Regions from separate parts of the Homo sapiens genome. Here regions 1 and 2 are each linked to region 3. Evidence: fine-mapped expression QTL. A gene starts in region 3. Each other region holds a variant in brackets. All regions are shown on one strand. Distances are from middle to middle. Region 1 overlaps CRTC1 (CREB regulated transcription coactivator 1). Region 2 overlaps CRTC1 (CREB regulated transcription coactivator 1). Region 3 holds the start of CRTC1 (CREB regulated transcription coactivator 1).

Region 1 (6,537 bases), 43 kb after region 3:
ATCGTGTTTTCGAGGTTTGTCCATGCTGTAGCATGGATCAGTGCTACAGTCTTTTTTTTTTGAGACAGGGTCTTGCTCTCTTGCCCAGGCTGGAGTGCAGAGGTGCAATCTCGGCTCACTACATCCTCTGCCTCCTGGGTTCAAGCGATTCTTCTGCCTCAGCCTCCCAAGTACCTGGGATTACAGGCATGGGGCACCACTCCTGGCTAATTTTTGTATTTTTGGTAGAGATGGGGTTTCACCATGTTGGCCAGGCTGGTCTCAAACTCCTGACCTCAAGTGATCCACCTGCCACAGCCTCCCAAAGTGCTGGGATTACAGGCCTGAGCCACTGTAATTGCCCGGCCTACAATCATATTTTGTTGTACGGATGGACCACATTTTGTTTATCCATTTATTTGGTGGGTTTTGTCTTTCGGATGTTGTTAACCGTCCACCTACCGTTTGTAAGTTTGTTGACATCTTATCTCCAATCTCCCCATGGGGAGAGACGGAGACCTGTCTCTTCCCATCTGCCTTAGCATCCTTGCTTCTGAAGACAGCTCTCAGGAAGTAGCAGGGCGTGAGGAAGGGATGAAGGGTGGGTGTCTGTGTCACCACAGCCCAGAGGTGCGGAGCCACGTGGTGTCTCCATGCTGTGGCTTAAAGTGTTGGAAGTTTGTGGCCAAGGCCAGTTCACCGGGGACCCCAGGTCCAGTATGGGTTTCCTAACGGTGGGCTTGCGTCACATTAGATAAAAGACCTGAGAGAGAACTCTGGAGGGCAAGGGGGCATCTGGTTGGTATTTCTGCCTGATTGCCATTTGTCTGGGGCCTGGAGAGGGAGCCTTAGCTATGTGTTTCGATGTGGTCAGATGGCCTGTGGGCAACAGGGCAGTTGCCCTGCAGGGACACTGGTCTCAGATGGAGTGAGACAGCCCCTGCGTCGACCCACCTTGCTGCCTGTGCCAGCTCCACAGCAGCCTCGTCAGTGTGGGGCACATTGCACACGCCACCGTCATCTCAGTTGTCCCCGTGCGCTTGGAGCCTCCGGGAGGGAGGATGCACGTTGGCGTGTTAATGGCGATGGCATTCCACCGTCACCCCAGGCAGAAGCAGACACTGTATGCTGCACTTATGAGACATGTGAAACCTCCCTGCACAGAACAGAGCATCCCACATATGTGGTCATGGGAGTTGAGAGAGCGACACCGTGAGCCCAGGCTTGTTCCCTGGGCTCCAGGCGGGAACCGGCGGGGCGGACAGGCTCCTCGGCAGCATCGACACGGCTCCCTCGTCCCCTCTGCAGATGGTGAGGCCCCAGGAGGGAGCAGTGACAGCTGATCAGTCTGTGGGGTGGGGTGTGTGGGTGCGTGGGGTGTTGTTCTCTGCACTCGCTAGGAGTCAATTTCATTTTCATCTTAGAGGTGATGGGTTGTTGCTGTGTGTGGGGGGATTCCATGATGAGCTGGCTCTAGGATCAAGGGACCTGGGGTGTTCAGGTTCTCAGCCCTGCCCTGGAAGGGGAGACAGCAGCACCTATTGGGACTGGGGGGCCATGTGTGAGTTTCTGGTGGCTGCTGTAATATATTAAAGTACTACACCTGGGCTGCTTAGAACAAGAATGTCTTCTCTCATGGTTCTAGAGCCTGGAAGTCTAAAATCCAGGTGTCGGCAGGGCCGAGCTTCCTCTGGAGGCTCTGGGGAGGAATCTTTCCTGCCTCTTCCAGCTTTCAGTGGCTCCAGCCGTTCCTTGGCTTGTGGCTGCATCGCCCCAATCCCGGCCGTCCCCCTCTGCATCTGTGTCTCATCTTCTGTCTCTTAAAAGGGCAGCAGTCACCCGATGTAGGGTCCTCCCGGCTAATCTAGGATGATTTCTTCATCCCAAGATCCTTCCCTTAATTATGTCTGAAAAGACTGTTTTTTCAAATAAGGTCATACTCTCAGGTTCCAGGGATGAGGAGGTGGATATAACCTTTTGGGGACACCGTGAATTCACTCCCCAGTAGCTGAGCTGACCTGCATCGAGCGCTTGGGATCTGCCTCTCACCCTCTTGGTTGCCTTGGCAGTTCCCTAAGGCCTCTGACCCTGTCACCCCCTGCCCAGCTTCCCTCAGCACACTGGCCCCACCCAGGAGCGCTCCTGTTGGTCCGTCCCTTGGACCCGCCTGGAGCTGGGGGGTGTCCCCTTTGTCCTGAGTACACACCCAGGAGACCCCTGTATGCTTCACCTTGGGGAGCTCAGTATCTTTTCTTCATAGCACTCTAGGCCAGCGTCCCTGTGCGAGACCCCCTTGCTCCCTAGTGCCCCTGCCTGGCCCCTCATGGCAATGCTGAGGGGGAGGCCTCCTGTGACCTCTGACCTCTGCAGGCCTCTGCACCTCCAGCCCCTTCTCTCCCCCAGCTCGGGCCTGAGGCCAGCACCCCTTAGGTGGCTTGATCCATCTCAGTTGTCCCTCCCTGTGGCCTCCAGGGAGCCCCTGTCCAGCTCCCAGAATCCTTGCTCTCTGTCATCGCTTGGTTTCTGGGTTCCTGCCTGTCTCTATCCTGGAGAGGAGAAGGAGGAGGACCCAGAACCTAGGAGGCCTCGGCCACCCTCCTGGAGCGGAGGTTGGGGCAGCCTGGCCAGCCGTCCCCACACACGGGCCCCTGGGTTCAGCGTTGGAGAAGGCATCAGTGCCAGACCTGTGGCTATGCGTGCTCACAGGGGCACCAGGCTGCCGGCTGGACCTGGCTTGGCCACTTGCATCCCTGGGGAGGCCTGGCCGTCCTTGGCGCCAGCCCCTCCTCCCTCTTCCTGAGCCTCCCACCTCTCTGGCCTGTGTTAGGGGCTTCTTTCTCCTCTTCTGAGTCTAATTCTGTCTTTCTCGCGTGGCTCAGGTATTCCGCCACCTTCCCCCAACACAGCCTGCATGGTCTCCCTCTCCTGGCTTACAGGGTCCGCCTCGGCCCTCCCGTGTTCTGGAGAATTCCTCTCTCCCCGTGTGTCGCGCTTCCGGGGCTGCCGGTCACCCTGGCTGCTCCTGCTGCCCAGATCCCCTGGGGACATCCCAGG[G/A]ACGGGGGCCACCCAGCCTCAGCCCAGGTCTGCCTGTGCCCATGCAGATCTGCAGTAAAGATGTTCTAGAAAGTGCTTCCTCCCGACTCATGTACCGCGCCCTCGATCTTCTCTGGAGTTGAGGCCGGGCCCTGGAACAGGCTCCAGCTCCTTGTTCTCCCAGCTGGTGATGCAGGAACATCTTTGCGCATAAATCTGCGTTCTGGATGATTTCCCTCAGGAGAGCTTCCCAGAAGTGGGATTACCAGGTTAGAGGGCAGGAACGTTGCTCAGGCACTCGGCGGACGCTGCCAAATGGCTCAGCCGGCGCTCCCAGCCACCTGCCTCTCAGAGCCCCATGCATTTCCAGCACCGCTGACGTGTGCCGGCCTCGCTTCACCCCTCGGTCCCCGGGGGACAGCAGAGGAGGCCCAGGCCCGGGAGGGGAGCTGGCTGCCCCAGAGGAGCCCTCAGGCGGCCAGCTATAGGGATGAGGTGAGAGCCATGGGCATCTGCTTCCTTGGGATGGTTCTTAGAGTGGGCTGGAGGTGACCTGGGGTTTGGTGAGTGTATGGGGTTGAACAGTGTCCCCTCAAAAGTTCATGTTCATCCAGAACCTGTGAGTGAGCTCATTTGGAAATAGGGATTTTACAGATGGACTTAAGTCATGATGAGGTCATTATGGAATAGGGTGGGCCCTAAATCCAGTGACTGGTGTCCTTATAAAGAAGACAAAGGCTGGGCGTGGTGGCCCACTCCTGTAATCCCTGTACTTTGGGAGACCAAGGCGGGCGGATCATGAGGTCAGGAGTTTGAGACCAGCCTGGCCAACATGGTGAAACCCTGTCTTTACTAAAAATACAAAAATTAGCCAGGTGTGATGGTGGGTGCCTGTAATCCCAGCTACTTGGGAGGCCGAGGCAGGAGAATTGCTTGAACCCAGGAGGTGGAGGTTGCAGCGAGCCGAGATCGTGCCACTGCATTCCAGCCTAGGTAACAGAGAAAGACTCCGTCTTGGGGAAAAAAAAAAAAAAAAAAAAAAAGAAGGCAAAACAGGCCAGGCACGGTGGCCTAGGCCTTTAATCCTAGCACTTTGGAAGGCCGAGGTGGGAGGATCACTTGAGGCCAGGAGTCCAGGTCTAGCCTGGGCAACATAGCCAGACCCCATCTCAGCAAAAAATTAGAAAATAATTGGCCAGGCTTGGTGGTGTGCTCCTGTAGTCCCAACTACTCAGGAGGCTGCAGCAGGAGAATCACTTGAGCCCAGGAGTTCAAGGCTGCCATGAGCTATGATTGTGCTGCTGCACTCCAGCCTGGGTGACAGAGTGAGACCCTGTCTCAAACAAACAAGGCAAAACAGAGGCACAGGGACAGAAAGGGAAAAGGACAAGGTCAGGCACGGTGGTTCACGCGTGTAATCCGAGCACTTTGGTAGGCCGAGGCAGGCAGGTCACGAGGTCAGGAGATCGAGACCATCCTGGCTAACACAGTGAAACCCTATCTCTACTAAAAATACAAAAAATTAGTTGGGTATGGTGGCACGCATCAGTAGTCCCAGCTATGTGGGAGGCTGAGGCAGGAGAATCGCTTAAACCTGGGAGGTGGAGGTTGCAGTGAGCCGAGATCACGCCACTGCACTCCAGCCTGGGTGACAGAGCAAGACTCTGTCTCAAAAAAAAAAAAAAAAAGAAGAAGAAAGGGAAAAGGACACAAGCAGACAGAAGCAAAGAATGAGGCGATCCGTCTACAAGCCAAGAAGTGCTAAGGATGGTCAGCAGCCGCAACAGCTGGGAGAGAGGCCACCTTGCTTTTATTTTATTTTTATTTTTTGAGATGGAGTCTCACTATGTTGCCCAGGCTGAAGTGCAGTGGCACAATCTTGGCTCACTGCCACCTCTGCCTCCCAGGTTCAGGAAGTTCTCCTGCCTCAGCCTCCTGAGTAGCTGGGATTACAGGCGCCCATCACCATGCCCAGATAATTTTCTTTTGTATTTTTAGTAGAGATGGGGTTTCACCATGTTGGCCAGGCTGATCTCGAACTCATGACCTCAGGTGATCCACCCACCTCAGCCTCCCAAAGCGCTGGGATTACAGGCGTGAGCCACCGTGCCCGGCCTCCACCTTACTTTCAGAGCCTCCAGAGCTGTGCGGGAAACATCTCTGTTGTGTCAGCCACCTGGTTTGTGCTTATTTGTTACAGCAGCCTCAGGAGACTGATATCATGCCCAAGAGTTGGGGATGGACCAAGGGGGACTCTGGGGTCAGGACAAGTGACCCCTCCCCTGGTGTCCTGGCCCTCCCGGTGAGGTTGCACAGAGGTTGGGAGAATGTCCCGTCCCGGCCCATCTCTGCCTCTCCACCCCCTTATGTTACTAGGTGAAGAATTGTACATTAGCCTCATTTGAAACTTTATTTCCAGGCCTCTTCAGCTTCAATCGCTGCCCAGGATGCATTGTGGGTAAGCAAAACCAGGACAATGGGCTTGGGCTTAAAAGTATCAGAGATCCCGATTTCATTCATTCCTGACACCAAGTCACTTGAAAAAGCAGTCGTAACATCACAGAGCAGCTCCGGGGAAGTTCTCCGTGCCTTATCCTCTTTTTTTAATTTTTTTGGAGATGGAGTTTCCCTCTTGTGGCCCAGGCTGGGGTGCAATAGTGCGATCTTGGCTCAGTAACCTCTGCCTCCTGGTTTCAAGTGACTCTCCCGCCTCAGCCTCCTGAGTAGCTGGGATTACAGGCATGTGCCACGACACCTAACTAATTTTGTATTTTTAGTAGAGACGGAGTTTCATCATGTTGGCCAGGCTGGTCTAGAACTCCTGACCTCAAGTGATCTGCCCACCTTGACTTCCCAAAGACCTCCCAAAGTTCTGGGATTACAGGTGTGAGCCACCTCACCTGGCCTTTTTTTTTTTTTTTGAGACAGAGTCTTGCTCTGTCGCCCAGGCTGGAGTGCAGTAGCACGATCTCAGCTCACTGCATCCTCTACCTCCCGAGTTCAAGTGATTCTCCTGCCTCAGCCTCCCAAGTACCTGGCATTACAGGTGCCTGCCATCATGTCTGGCTAATTCTTGTATTTTTAGTAGAGACAGGGTTCCACCATGTTGGCCAGGCTGGTCTCGAACTCCTGACCTCAGGTGATCCACCTCCCTTGGCCTCCCAAAGTGCTGGGATTACAGGCGTGAGCCACCGCACCTGCCCGCCTTGTTTTCTTTAGAAGTTGGTTCAGGCTGGCCGGGCGCGGTGGCTCACGCCTGTAATCCCAGCACTTTGGGAGGCCGAGGTGGGCGGATCACGAGGTCAGGAGATCGAGACCATCCTGGCTAACGTGGTAAAACCCTGTCTCTACTAAAAATACAAAAAAATTAGCCGGGCGTGGCGGCGGGCACCTGTAGTCCCAGCTACTCAGGGGGCTGAGGTGGGAGAATGGCGTGAACCCGAGAGGCGGAGCTTGCAGTGAGCTGAGATCGCGCCACTGCACTCTAGCCTGGGCAACAGAGCGAGACTCCGTCTCAAAAAAAAA
Region 2 (6,537 bases), 35 kb after region 3:
CAGAGACTCGCTTTGCCACCCAGGCTGGAGTGCAGTGGTGCGATCTCGGCTCACTGCAACCTCCACCTCCCAGGTTCAAGCAATTCTCCTGCCTTAGTCTCCCAAGTAGCTGGGATTACAGGTGCACGACACCACGCCTGGCTAATACCCCTTCTCTTCTCTTCTAAAGGCCCTTGCCATTGGATTAGGGCCCACCCTACTCCAACATGACTTTAACTCAATTACAGCTGCAAATACCTTATTTCCAAGTAAGTTCCCATTCCAGGTGCCAGGGGTCAGGACTTGGACATACTTTTCTGGGAGTACGTCCCACAACAGAAAGTAAGTACTGTGGTGCAGGCCCCATGCCCAGCAGGGAGCTGCAGCCTCCCCTCAGCCACCTGTGGCCCCGGGGACGGGCCTGTCCTCCCCTCTTCCCCTGCTTCTCAGTGTGTGGACATCATGATGCTTTTGCTTTCGTCATTTGTGTGATTGCATCTTGGAACCAAGTGCTGTTTGCACGTGCAGGTGGGCTCCCAGGCAGGGGGTCTCTCTGAGTTGGCCTGTTTGGAGGTTTGTCCCAGCCAAGGGGCCCACCTGGCTGAACCCACCCTGCTCAGGGCTGCATCCTGTTTCCCTGTTGACTTTGCTGCAGCCCACGCTCCTTCCTGCCACTGCTTGTGGTTGGCTGCTGTTTGGAGCTGTCCCCGGCATTCCTGCACCCGAAGCCTGGGACAGGTGTACGCTTATGTGCTGGCAGCGGTTGGCGGGGGGGGTGTCGCCAAAGAGCGGGGATGCTGAGAATGGTCCCCTTGCTGGGCTGCAGGTGGGGAGGGATGCCTCCGGGATTCCCAGAGTCACTGGTGGCATGTGCCCCCCGCTGCCCTGCCCAGTGCCCCGCCCTGGGGACCCTGTAGTGAGTGCAGCAGCCACAGCCCACCCTTGTTGGGGGCTGTGGTCTTAGGGTGGGGACATCAGCCTGAGGGTCATTATTGGAGGTGGGGCCAGAATGTGGCTCCCGAATGACTCTTTTTTTTTTTTTGAGACGCAATCTTGCTCTGTCACCCAGGCTGGAGTGCAGTGGCACGATCTCAGCTCACTGCAGTCTCCACCTCCCAGGTTCAAGCAGTTCTCTGCCTCAGCCTCCCAAGTAGCTGGGATTACAGGCGTCTGCCACCACACCCAGCTAATTTTTGTATTTTTAGTAGAGATGGGGTTTCACCATGTTGGCCAGGCTGGTCTCAAACTCCTGACCTCATGATCCACCCACCTTGGCCTCCCAAAGTGCTGGGATTACAGGTGTGAGCAACTGTGCCTGGCCGGCTCCTGCATGACTCTTAGCCCAGGTGCAGCCCAGCAAGCATTAGCGTGTGGAGAGCCCAGCGGGCATTAGTGTGTGGAGAGGGCATGGCTAGTATAGGGGCTAGCGAGTAGAGCATGCTGTGTCGTCTTTCCTGTAGAGCTGGAGTGACCTGCTCAGGTGGGAAGTTTGGAGAGACTCCAGCTGAGTGGTTTGGGCGCTGCAGGGTTAACTTGAGACCCCAGTAGGAGGCTTCTGTATTTGTCCAGGCAAGAGAAGATGTGGCTTGGGCCAGAATGAGGACAGAAGAGGCGAGAGGGCAGAAGAGGTGCTGGGACATGGGGGAGCCAGGTGGGGCATGGGGGGTTCCTAAGGAAGGGACAGGTTTGGGCAGTTGTGAATGTGCTCGTGTGTGTGCAAGTGAGTGGGAGCTGGCGTGCAGGCAGGACAGGAGTGCAGGCAGGACAGGAGTGTGAGCATGTGTGTGTGCGTGTGAGCATATGTGCATGCACGTGCATGAATGTGTTTATGTGACTATGTGCATTGCTGTGAGTGTGCACACATGTGGCTGGGTGCATGTGTGTGAACACGTGTGATGTCTGTACAGCCTCCCTGGTGGGTGACTGGCGCTGGGCTGGAGACATGAGTTTGGGGAGCTTTGAGTGAGGGGTGATGGTGGCACTCCCAGGGTGGGGCTGAGAGGGGGCTGCTGGGCTTGGGAGTGGAGGGCCCAGGGGAAGTCTTTCCCCTAGCACCCTCTCCCAGGGTCTTCAGGCTGTGTGGGAGCCAGGACTGGGTCTGTCTCCTTGTGGCCTCTGTCCTTGGTGCAGTAATGACCACTGGGTAGTGGCCCTTGGGGTCAAGGGCATCCCTGGAGCCCTTGCCATAGATGCTGAGCTGGAGCAGGGCTGCCACCCCATACTGTTCAGGGGCCAGTCCCTCCCCTCTGGAGCTGATCACCCCAAACACTGTCCCCTCAGAAGGGTCGTAGTGCTCACTCACAGGAGCCTGTGTTTCTGCCTGTGTGTGGGGCACTGGGGCCCAGAGAGGCAGACACAGATGCGTGCAGCCACCAGCTTGGATGCAGGACCCCTGGGCTCAAACACTGCCTTCCAGTCTCAGCCTACAGTGAGTATGGGCGGGGCTGGAGGATGCAGCTCAGAGAGGAGGGTGCAGGGTTCCGGGGTGGGCCAAATGCCGGGTGGGAGCAGAGCAGGGCCGCAGGGACATGGGAGGGCCTCTCGCAGGACGGTTTCTCATGCCAGCCCTGGTCAAGGCAGCAGTGGTTTCCAGACACGGGGGTGCGTGTGTGAGGCAGGAACAGTACAAGCAGAGGGCCCCTGGGGAGAAGGCCTTTGACAGCAGGAAGAGGACCTGGCAGTAGGGACAGGAGTGAGGGAGAAGAAAAAGACAGCAGGGCCTGGGCAGCCCCGTCACGGGGCTGGCTTTGAATCTTACTTATCTATTGTTGAGGTGAACACCACATAACATAAGATTCACCATCTGAAAGTGAACAGTTCCATGGCGTTTGGCGCATTCACAGTATTGTGCAGGCATCACAGCTATCTAGTTCCAGAACATTCTCATCATCCAAAGGAGACCTTGTCCCCATTAGCAGTCCCTCCCCTCCTCTCCTCCCCAGCCCCTGGCAGTTACTAATCTGCTTCCTGTCTCTGTGGATTTGCCTGTTCTGAGCATTTCAGATCGATGGAATCTCACACCCTGTGGCCTTCTGTACCTGGCTTCTCTCACTCAGCATCACATGTTCAGTTTCATCCACATTGTAGCATGGGTCAGTGCTTCCTTCCTTTTTTGTTGTTCCTCTTGAGACAGGGTCTCACTCTGTCACCCAGGCTGGAGTGCAGTGGTACGATCACAGCTCACTGCAGCCTCCACCTCTTGGGCTCTGTCCAACCTCCCACCTCTGCCTCTCGAATAGCTGAAATTATTGGTGTGCACCACCATGCATGCCTGGCTAATTTTTTTTTTTTTTTTTTAGAAACAGGGTTTCACCATATTGGCCAGGCTGCTCTCAAACTCCTGGCCTCAAGGGATCTTCCCTCCTCCGCCTCCCAAAGTGCTGGGATTACAAGTGTGAGCCACCGTGCCCAGCCTTCATTCCTTTTCATGGCTGAATCTTATTCCACTGTATGGACAGACCAGTCTTATTCATTCATCCCTTGGCACACACGTGGGTTTTCCCACCTTTTGGCTGTTGTCCATTGTGCTGGTACACACACTCATGTATGATTGTCTTCATTTCGTGGGGGCATCCGTCCAGGAGTGGGATTGCTTGGTCATAACAGCAGCTCAGCATGTCACTTGTTGAGGAACCGCCATACAGATTGGGGGTTTATTTTAAATAGGATGGAAGCCTACTGGTGTGTTTAAAACGGGAGCATAACACGATTTGAACTGAATGAATAAAGAG[A/G]AGAAAATGAAGGAGTCTCGGCAGCCACTTGCAGAGGGAGCAGGGAGGCCTGGGAGGAGGTCACGTGGGTGTCTGGGTGCGAGATGACACGGGCTAGTACCAGGGAGGGGGCTGACGATGGGCCCTGGAAGTCGAGCTGCTGGGAAGTGATCATGGGAGTGATGAGGCAGGCAGAGGAAAGGGACACCTCCAGCCTCTGTCCCTGCTTCTTCTACCCTGGCGGGCGCAGCCTCCAACTAGTGACCCCTCCTCTGGGCTTGGTCCTTCCCTGCATCGTGTGTGTCTGCTGGGCACTCCAAATGTGGTGCCTGGCCCCGCTAGCCCAGAATGCGGCCTGAAGATGGTGAGACAGGCAAGGGCTAACCCCACCGGGTCCCCAGGGCCTGCAGCAGGTGCCACCTGGGGCCTGGCTAGGAGTTCAGGGGCCTGGGTGAAGCCTTTGGGACAGGGCTGTGAGGGCACTCAAGGGGTACCAGGTGGGCCCCGGCAGGCCCAGGATCTGGCCTTCCAAATCACAAAATGACTTTTGGTGTTATGTAACTCCATAGTCAAGCTATGTCTAAAAAATGGAGCATAAAAGCTATTTTGGGCCCATGGTAATGAGGGCATCTCGCCTTTGTCTTAGCCGTCCTGGGGGGAGGCAGCGTCGAAAGAGCTGCTCAGAGAGGCGGGTTCAGCCCAGACCCCAAGCAAGCCCTGTGTCAGCAGGCAGATGCCGTTTTCAAAAATCATTTGTTCCGCCTCGACCGGAGGTGGCTCCTGGCAGATCGCCCCGCGGTGCTCAGAATCCCAGAGGCCTGCGGGCGGCTGACCCGGGGCGAGCAGGGCTGGGCCTCCTCTGCCGTGTCTGGGATCTGACTTCCCTGAGGTTAGGTCCGGCACCTGTCAGAAACCAGGCCTGACATTTTCAAGATGGGCACAGGCCCGCTCCGGGAAGGCCCCAGGCCCGTCCATGTGGGCAGCGTCGGCGTCGGGCTTCTTGCCTGGGACCCAGGGGCCGCTCTTGGGGAGGGAGACCCTGTTTCAAGTGGCCAGCATCCCCGCCAGTGGTTTGCATTATTCAATTGGTGATAAGATTTAAAATTAAACTGCAAAGGATCTGTTCCCCCAGCTACAAATAGACGTGTGCTTGCACATTCCAGAACACAAGTGTGCACCAAGAGATGTGTTTTGAGTCAAGGTGGAGAAAAAGTGAGTTTTTTTGTTTTGTTTTGTTTTGTTTTTGAGATGGAGTCTCACTGTCTCCCAGGCTGAAGTGTAGTGACGCGATCTCGTGTCACTGCAACCTCTGCTTCCCTGGTTCAAGCAATTCTCCTGCCTCAGCCTCCCGAGTAGCTGGGATTACAGATGTGAGCCACCACACCTGACTAACTTTTGTATTTTCTTTCTTTCTTTCTTTTTCTTTTTTTTGAGACAGTCTCGCTCTGTCACCCAGGCTGGAGTGCAGTGGCATGATCTCGGCTCACTGCAAGCTCCGCCTTCCGGGTTCACGCCATTCTCCTGCCTCAGCCTCCCGAGTAACTGGGACTACAGTCGCCTGCCACCACGCCCGGCTAATTTTTAGTGTTTTTTTTTTTTTTTTTTTTTTAGCAGAGATGGGGTTTCACCATGTTAGTCAGGATGGTCTTGATCTCCTGACCTTGTGATCCGCCCGCCTCGGCCTCCCAGAGTGCTGGGATAACAGGCGTGAGCCACCACGCCCGGCCTAACTTTGGTACTTTCAGTAGAGACGGGGTTTCATCATGTTGGCCAGGCTGATCTCGAACTCCTGACCTCAAGAGATCCACCCACCTTGACCTCCCAAAGTACTGGGATTGCAGGTGTGAGCTGCTGCACCCGGCTGAGTTTTGGAATTCCCTCTCTTTCTCTCTGCTCATGTACACTATGTGCACGCATGCATGGGGCCCTCTCTGCCCGAGTACACTGCCTGCACACATGCGTGGGGCCTTAGTCCTTCCTTTCCTGTTGGTGGCTGTAACAAATGACCACAAACTGGGTATCTTAAAACAATAGAAATGTATTCAGTGCAGGTGTCGGCAGGGCTGGTGCCTGCAGGAGGCTCTAGGGGAGGATCCTTCCTGCCTCCTCCAGCTTCAGTGGCTCTAGGCGCTCTTTGCATCACTCCAGTCTCTGCCTTCATTGTCATGTGGACACCTCCTCTCACTGTGTCTCTTCTCATCTTCTGAGGATGCTAGTCATTGGATTTAAGGCATACCCTACTCCAGTTCAACCTCTGTTTTTTTTTTTTTTTTGAGACGGAGTCTCGCTCTGTCGTCCAGGCTGGAGGGCAGTGGCGCGATCTCGGCTCACTGCAAGCTCCGCCTCCTGGGTTCACGCCATTCTCCTGCCTCAGCCTCCCGAGTAGCTGGGACTTCAGGCGCCCGCCACCATGCCCGGCTAATTTTTTGTATTTTCGGTAGAGACGGGGTTTCACAGTGTTAGCCAGGATGGTCTCGATTTCCTGACCTTGTGATCCACCCACCTTGGCCTCCCAAAGTGCTGGGATTACAGGCATGAGCCACCACACCCGGCCTTTTTTTTTTTTTTTTTTTTTAAACAAGGTCTTGCTCTGTCGCCCAGGCTGGAGTGCAGAGGCACAATCATAGCTCACTTCAACCTCTGCCTCCTGGGGTCAAGCGATCCTCCCACCTCAGCCTCCTGAGTAGCTGGAACTACAGGCGTGATCCACCATGCCCAGCTAATTTTTGTATTTTTAGTAGAGACGGGGTCTTGCTATGTTGCCCAGGCTGGTTTCAAACTCCTGAGCTCAAGCAATCCACCTGCCTCAGTCTCCCAAAGTGTTGGGATTATAGGCGTGAGCCATGCA
Region 3 (6,537 bases):
TCAGCACTTTGGGAGGCTGAGGGGGGCGGATCACTTGAGCCCAGGAGTTTGAGACCAGCCTGAGCAACAGGATGAATCCTGTCTCTACAAAAACCACAAAACATTAGCCAGGCATGATGATGCACACCTGTAGTCCCAGCTACCTGGAAGGCTGAGGTGGGGGGATCACCTGAGCCTAAGGGTTGGGGCTTCAGTGAGCATGATCATGCCACTGCACTCCAGCCTGGGCAACAAAGTGAGACCCTGTCTGAAAAAACAAACAAACAAACAAACAAGAAAACAAATAGACAAGCACAAAAGGGAATAAATTTTTGGCCTACATAACTTAAAAGGCAGGTGAGTCTAGCTTCAGGAATGGCTGGATCCAGAAGCTCAGGCTGGAGTACAGTAATGTGATCTCGGCTCACTGCAACCTCTGCCTCCTGGATTCAAGCTGTTCTCCTGCCTCAGCCTCCCAAGTAGCTGGGATTAGAGGCATGTGCCACCATGCCCAGCTAATTTTGTATTTTTAGTAGAGATGGAGTTTCCCTATGTTGGTCAGGCTGGTCTCAAGCTCCTGACCTCAAGTGATCCACCCACCTTGGCCTCCCAAAGTGCTGGGATTACAGTTGTGAGCCACCGTGCCAGGCCTGGTTCTGTTTTCCTCTGTGTGGGTCCACTCTTTTGGCCCAGCTGAACTAATCTTTTGTTTTTTTTTGAGACAAAGTCTCCCTCTGTTGCCCAGGCTAGAGTGAAGTGGCGCTATCTTGGCTCACTGCAACCTCCACCTCCTGGGTTCAAGTGATTTTCCTGCCTCAGCCTCCCCAGCAGCTGGAATTACAGGCGTGTGCCACCGCGTCTGGCTAATTTTTTTTGTATTTTTAGTCGAGATGGGGTTTCACCATGTTGGCCAGTCTGGTCTCAAACTCCTGACCTCAGGTGTTCTGCCCGCCTCTGCCTCCAAAAGTGTAGGGATTACAGTCATGACCCAGCGCCCAGCCTGTTTTTTGTTTGTTTGTTTGTTTGTTTGTTTGAGACAGGGTCTTGCTCTGTCACCCAGGCTGGAGTGCAGTGCATTATCATAGCTCACTGCAGCCTCCATCTCCCAGGCTCAAGCAATCCTCCTGTCTCAGCCTCCTGAGTAGCTGGGATTATAAGCAGGCATCACCACGCGCAGGTAATTTTTTTATTTTTAGTGGAGATTAAATCTCGCTATGTTGCCCAGGCTGGTCTCAAGCTCCTGGGCTCAAATGATCCTCCTGCCTCGGCCTCCCAAGTTCTGGGATTACAGGCATGAGCCACAACACCCAGCCTGGCCTGAACCAATCTTGATGGCCAGCACAATGGGCTATGCTGATTGGCCAAGACTTCCACCTTAGGGAGGGGTGTTTGTGTGGTGGGAGAGTGGTGAGACCAGCCATTCACATCTCACAGACTGAAAGTCAGAACCAGTGTTCCCCAAATAAGGGTTGTTGACACTAAAAAGTTGAGGGAGTGGGTGGGGTTGAGAGAAGGAATATGCTTGTTAGGCAAAAAGTATAGGAGCTTACCAAAGTGCGCAAAATCATATCAAGAAGGAAGATGGCCGGGTGCGGTGGCTCATGTCTGTAATCCCAGCACTTTGGGAGGCTGAGGCGGGCGGATCACCTGAGGTCAGAAGTTCAAGACCAGCCTGGCCAACACGGTGAAACCCTGTCTCTACTAAAAATACAAAAAGTAGCCGGGTGTGGTGGTGGGTTCCTGTAATTCCAGCTACTTGGGAGGCTGAGGCAGGAGAATCACTTAAACCCCAGAGGCAGAGGTTGCAGTGAGCTGAGTCTGTGCCACTGCACTCCAGCCTGGGAAACAGAGACTCCGTCTCAAAAAAAAAAAAAAAAAAAAAATCCCATAAAAATTAGCTGAGCATCATGGTGCATGCCTGTAATCCCAGCTACTTGGGAGGCTGAGGTAGGAGAATCGCTTGAACCTGAGAGGCAGAGATTGCAGTGAGCCAAGGTTGCGCCACTGCACTCTAGCCTGGGCGACAGAGTGAGACTCTGTCTCAAAACAAAGATAAAGTAGGGCAGTGGCAATATCCAAGGCATTCTAAATGAAAATCGATATATATATATATATATTTAACATGAGCATTTTATTACCTGTTGTAAAGCATGAATCAAAGCATGTTTGGAAGATGTCAGCATCCCCTCCAGCCATCCTCAGTCCAATAAAATGTGTGCTTGTTGTGCCATTAGAGCCATCATCAATTCCCCCAGCTGACCTTCCTAGCTTCCACCCAGCCCATACTCTGAAATCCCTGCAGCCTCCTGAATATAAACTTTCAATATTGGTGGTTGGGGGTCCCTCTCTTGAGGGAGGGAGGGTTAGAGTCCCTCCTGCTTCCCTGGCTTACCACTCTGCCATCGGGGGAGTCTCTGCTCCTTCCTTCACTGCTGAGTCTTGATGGGATTTCTGGACCCTTCTGTTAGCACCTTGTTGCAAAATAGAGATCCTTGAACAAGACTGGACTGGAGAAGTATGCAGAGGGAAGGCTGAAGCTCTGTAACTCCAGTTCTTTGGGCTCAGGTATCCAGAGAATAGCAATATGCCCATTGCAAGGGAATGGGAAAAAGTAGTCGTCGGCTGGACATGGTGGCTCACGCCTGTAATCCCAGCACTTAGGGAGGGCGAGGCGGGTGGATCACCTGCTGTCAGGAGTTCAAGACCAGCCTGGCCAACATGGTCTTTAGTCTCTACTGAAAATAAAAAAATTAGCTGGGCGTGGTGGCGCCTGCCTGTAATCCTAGCTACTGGAGAGGCTGAGGCAGGAGAATGGCTTGAACCTGGGAGGAGGAGGTTGCAGTGAGCCGAGATCGCACCACTGCATTCCAGTCTGGGCGACAAGGGCAAAACTCGGTCTCAAGGGAAAAAAAAAAAAAAAAAAGAAAGTCGTTAAGGGCAACAGCTAGGTTTATGGACTGAGAGAGCCGATTGCAGGGTTCAGGTCTTAGCTAAGATAACTTTCCGCCTCCCTGTCTGTGGTGGCTGCAGGAGCCTCCCTCCCTAATGTTCTGTGGCTGGCCACTGGTCTTATTTACCGCATCACATTTACCTCCATCTGAAAAGTTCTTGGTTATTTGTGTGCTATGTCTGCCCCCTCTCTGACTGTACACTCCATAAGGGCAGGGATCACCTCTGCTTGTTCACGCCTGTACTCCAGTTTGCCTGGCACATAGTAGGTGCTCAGTAAATATTCCTTGAATGAATGAATGCATGAGTGACCAACGCCCTAGTCTGTTTTCAGAGCTCTTAGTCCAAACCCAGGTTCAACTTGGGGTGCCACCAATCCTTGCGGGGGGGGGTGCCTGGCCCCACCCTTGTGAATTGGGAGGATCTGGGTCAGGCCGTCTCCCTCTTGGGGGCTCCAGTGCCCCAGCCGATCCGCGGTCCTTGTCCAACAGCCCAGAGGCCGCTGTCCAGCGGGCCAGGAGGCGGATCACTGCGTCGGCGTTGAAATTTCCACTCGCGCTCCACCGCCCTTCCCGCGGGCCCCGAGCGCGCGCCTGGGCGCGCGCATGCGCCTTCGCCCCCGCGCCGCGCGCCGCTCCTGTGCGCCTGCGCCGCGCTCACGACCGCCGGCGCGCCTGCGCACTGCTCGCCGCCCGTGGGCCCAGCCGGCGCTTGCGCGGTGGCACGGGCGAGTGGGGGGGCGAGGAGGTGGAGGAGGAGGAGGAGGAGGAGGAGGTGGCGGCGAGAAGATGGCGACTTCGAACAATCCGCGGAAATTCAGCGAGAAGATCGCGCTGCACAATCAGAAGCAGGCGGAGGAGACGGCGGCCTTCGAGGAGGTCATGAAGGACCTGAGCCTGACGCGGGCCGCGCGGGTAAGGGGGCTGCCCGCGCCGACCCTTCAGGGCCGGCGGAGGGAGGGAGGGGGCGCGTGTCCGGCGCGTGCACGGGGCGGGGTGGGGGGGGGCGCGGCGGGGGCGGGGCGCGCGCGGCGGGGGCGGGGCTTGGCACGGCCCGAGGGGGACAGGTGTCCCCACGCCCCGGGCGTCGTGGGCGGGACAGGTGACCCCACAAAATCCATACCTGATGGGGTACAGGTGCCCTGCATCACTGCTCCCCGGAGGAGACAGGGGCCTCTATATCATTACTACTAGGAGGGAACAGGTGCTAGTACCTCGTCGTTACCTGACAGGGGACAGGTGTCCCTACATCATTGTTACCCGAGGGGGACAGGTGCCCCACATTATTACTACCTGGAAGGGACAGGTGCCCCCGCATCATTGCTACCTGGGGGGGCAGGATGACACAGGTGTATGAGCTGGGTGCTGCTTGCAAGCACCATTGGTAGCTGGGGGTGAGGGTGCAAGTGCCCCCGCATCCTTGCTACCTGGGAGGGACAGATGCCCTCCCATTCTTGCTACCTGAGGGGGACCGGTGTCTCTACGTCATGGTTACCTGTGCCTTTACTCCCTGGGTGTTGGGGGAGGAACGGATGTCCCCACTTGCAGAGCTGAGGTGGGACAGGGATCTCTCCCTCTTGGACAGCTGAGGGAATGGTCAGATCCTGTCCCCCAGGGGGTCCAGAGGGGGGCCAAGAAGGCAGATTGTGCTCAGTCCTGGAACTTGGAGTGGAGACAGCTGCCCCTTCTCCATGTAGCCCATATGGTGGGGGCCAGGTGATGTTCCTCCCAGTGGAACAGGGGATGCTGACCACAGCCCCTGCCCTCTCAGGACCAGGGTGGAGGGCCAGGTCTGCCTCAGGTGGCTGGGCGCATTTGGTGTGCAGGGGCAGGCCAGGTTCTGCCAGGCTCCTGTCTGGCAGAGCAGATACCCTGCAAATCTCACCTGGGAAGTTGCTGTGGGCCAGGAGCAGGGGCTTGGGGCTGGTGTCTGAGCACGGCAAGGCACCCGAGTTCCTCAGGCCTCAGTTTCTTGTCAGGCATTCTAGCAAGACCTTCCTCTTGGGGCAGGGTGGTGAGCACACTCTGCAAAGGTGATGCTGAATCTCCACTTTGTTCTTGCAGTGTGGTGAGACCTCTCTCCTGCATCCTGGGGCCTTGGGGAGGGTTTGGGTGGGCTTTGCAGATGCTCGTATCCCTGGTTTCCAGATTCAGCCACTGATGTGACTGGCTCAGGTAGACTTAACCTCAGTCTCTGATTCCTTAGGTAGCACTTTCAGTCTGTGTTACTTTGTAACTAGTTGTTTGTTTCTCTGAGAGATTGTGACCTTATAGACTAGGATTTGTGTCTTCATTTCTGTGTTGGTAATGATTGGGAGCTCACTGTCACCCAGGTACTGCTTTAGGCATGCTCGGTGAGTGTGCCACATCTGTCCTCCCAGCTCCAAGCAGCTACATTCTTGCTCAGGATGTAGAGAAAGAGATGGCTGGTGAATGAATGAATGAAAAAAAAATAAGAAAATGGCCAGGTGTGGTGGCTCATGCCTGTAATCCCAGCACTTTGGAAGGCTGAGGCAGTGGATCACCTGAGGTTAGGAGTTCGAGACCAGCCTGGCCAACGTGGTGAAACCCTGTCTGTACTAAAAATATAAAAATTAGCCGGACGTGGTGGTAGCTACCTGTAATCCCAGCTACTGGGGAGGTTGAGGTGGGAGAATCACTTGAACCTGGGAGGTGGAGGTTGCAGTGAGCCGAGATCATGTTACTGTACTCCAGCCTGGGTGACAAGAGTGAAACTCCATTTCAAAAAAAGAAAATAAGAAGAAAGTGTGCAACTTGAGCATCCTTCCACGTGAGTGTCCCCCACATATCAGGGCTTCTGAGGCAGGAGTGGCCACTTCTTTTTGTCTCCAGCACATGGTGTGTGCTGGCATGCAGTTGTTGTCAAATGTTTGCAGTGTGACCGGAAGAAAGGGGTCACAGTAGGTTCATGGGTGTCATTCTGATTAGAAGTCCAGTTTCTGCGTGGGATTGGAAATAGATTATTGTTGTTGAAAACATCTCTTTAAAATAATAGCTTTATTGAGATATGATTCACACATCATACAATTTACTTGTTTAAAGTGTACAGTTTGGTGGTTTTTAGTATATTCACAGAGTTGTGCAACCACCCCTATTTTGTAATTCCAGAACATTTTTTATCCACCCAGAAAGAAACCCCGTCCCCATTAACAGTCACTCCCCATTCCCCCTCCCCTAGCCCCTGGCAAGCACTAAGCTGTCTTCTGTCTCTGTGGGTTTTCCTATTCTGGGCATTTTATATAAATGGAATCACACAACACGTGGCCTTTTGTGACTGGCATCTTTCACTCAGCGTCATGTTTTCAAGGTTCATCTCTGTAGTATCATGGATCAGTGCTTCGTTCCTTTTTAGGGTCAAGTAATATTCCGTTGTATGGATATATTGTATTTGTTTATCCATTCATCAGTCAATGAATTTAGAAAAATTCTGAGGCCAAGTGCAGTGGCTCACACTTGTAATCCCAGCACTTTGGGAGGCCAAGGTGAGTGGATGACCTGAGGTCAGGAGTTCGAGACCAGCCTGGCCAACATGGTGAAACCCGTCTCCACTAAAAATACAAAAATTAGTCGGGTGTGGTGGCACATGCCT

Evidence for each region. PIP is the estimated chance that this variant, and not a neighbour inherited with it, causes the effect. A credible set is the group of variants that fine-mapping cannot tell apart.
Region 1: its variant is the best candidate, but not a certain one, in a credible set for the expression of CRTC1 in cerebellum (GTEx, PIP 0.85).
Region 2: its variant is the best candidate, but not a certain one, in a credible set for the expression of CRTC1 in tibial nerve (GTEx, PIP 0.81).

Annotation. Positions count from the first base shown.
Region 1 is chr19:18,722,898-18,729,434 of GRCh38, forward strand. All of the region lies in intron 1 of CRTC1 (CREB regulated transcription coactivator 1), which reads left to right. Among named protein-coding and RNA genes, the nearest start is that of CRTC1, 42 kb to the left of the region's middle. The variant G/A (reference allele first, on the strand shown) is at 3,034.
Region 2 is chr19:18,715,250-18,721,786 of GRCh38, forward strand. All of the region lies in intron 1 of CRTC1 (CREB regulated transcription coactivator 1), which reads left to right. Among named protein-coding and RNA genes, the nearest start is that of CRTC1, 35 kb to the left of the region's middle. The variant A/G (reference allele first, on the strand shown) is at 3,711.
Region 3 is chr19:18,679,987-18,686,523 of GRCh38, forward strand. It overlaps CRTC1 (CREB regulated transcription coactivator 1), which reads left to right and starts at 3,694. Exons shown (of 14, transcript NM_015321.3): 1 at 3,694-3,842. The coding sequence starts at 3,717. RefSeq lists an enhancer at 3,084-3,383 and a silencer at 3,594-3,683.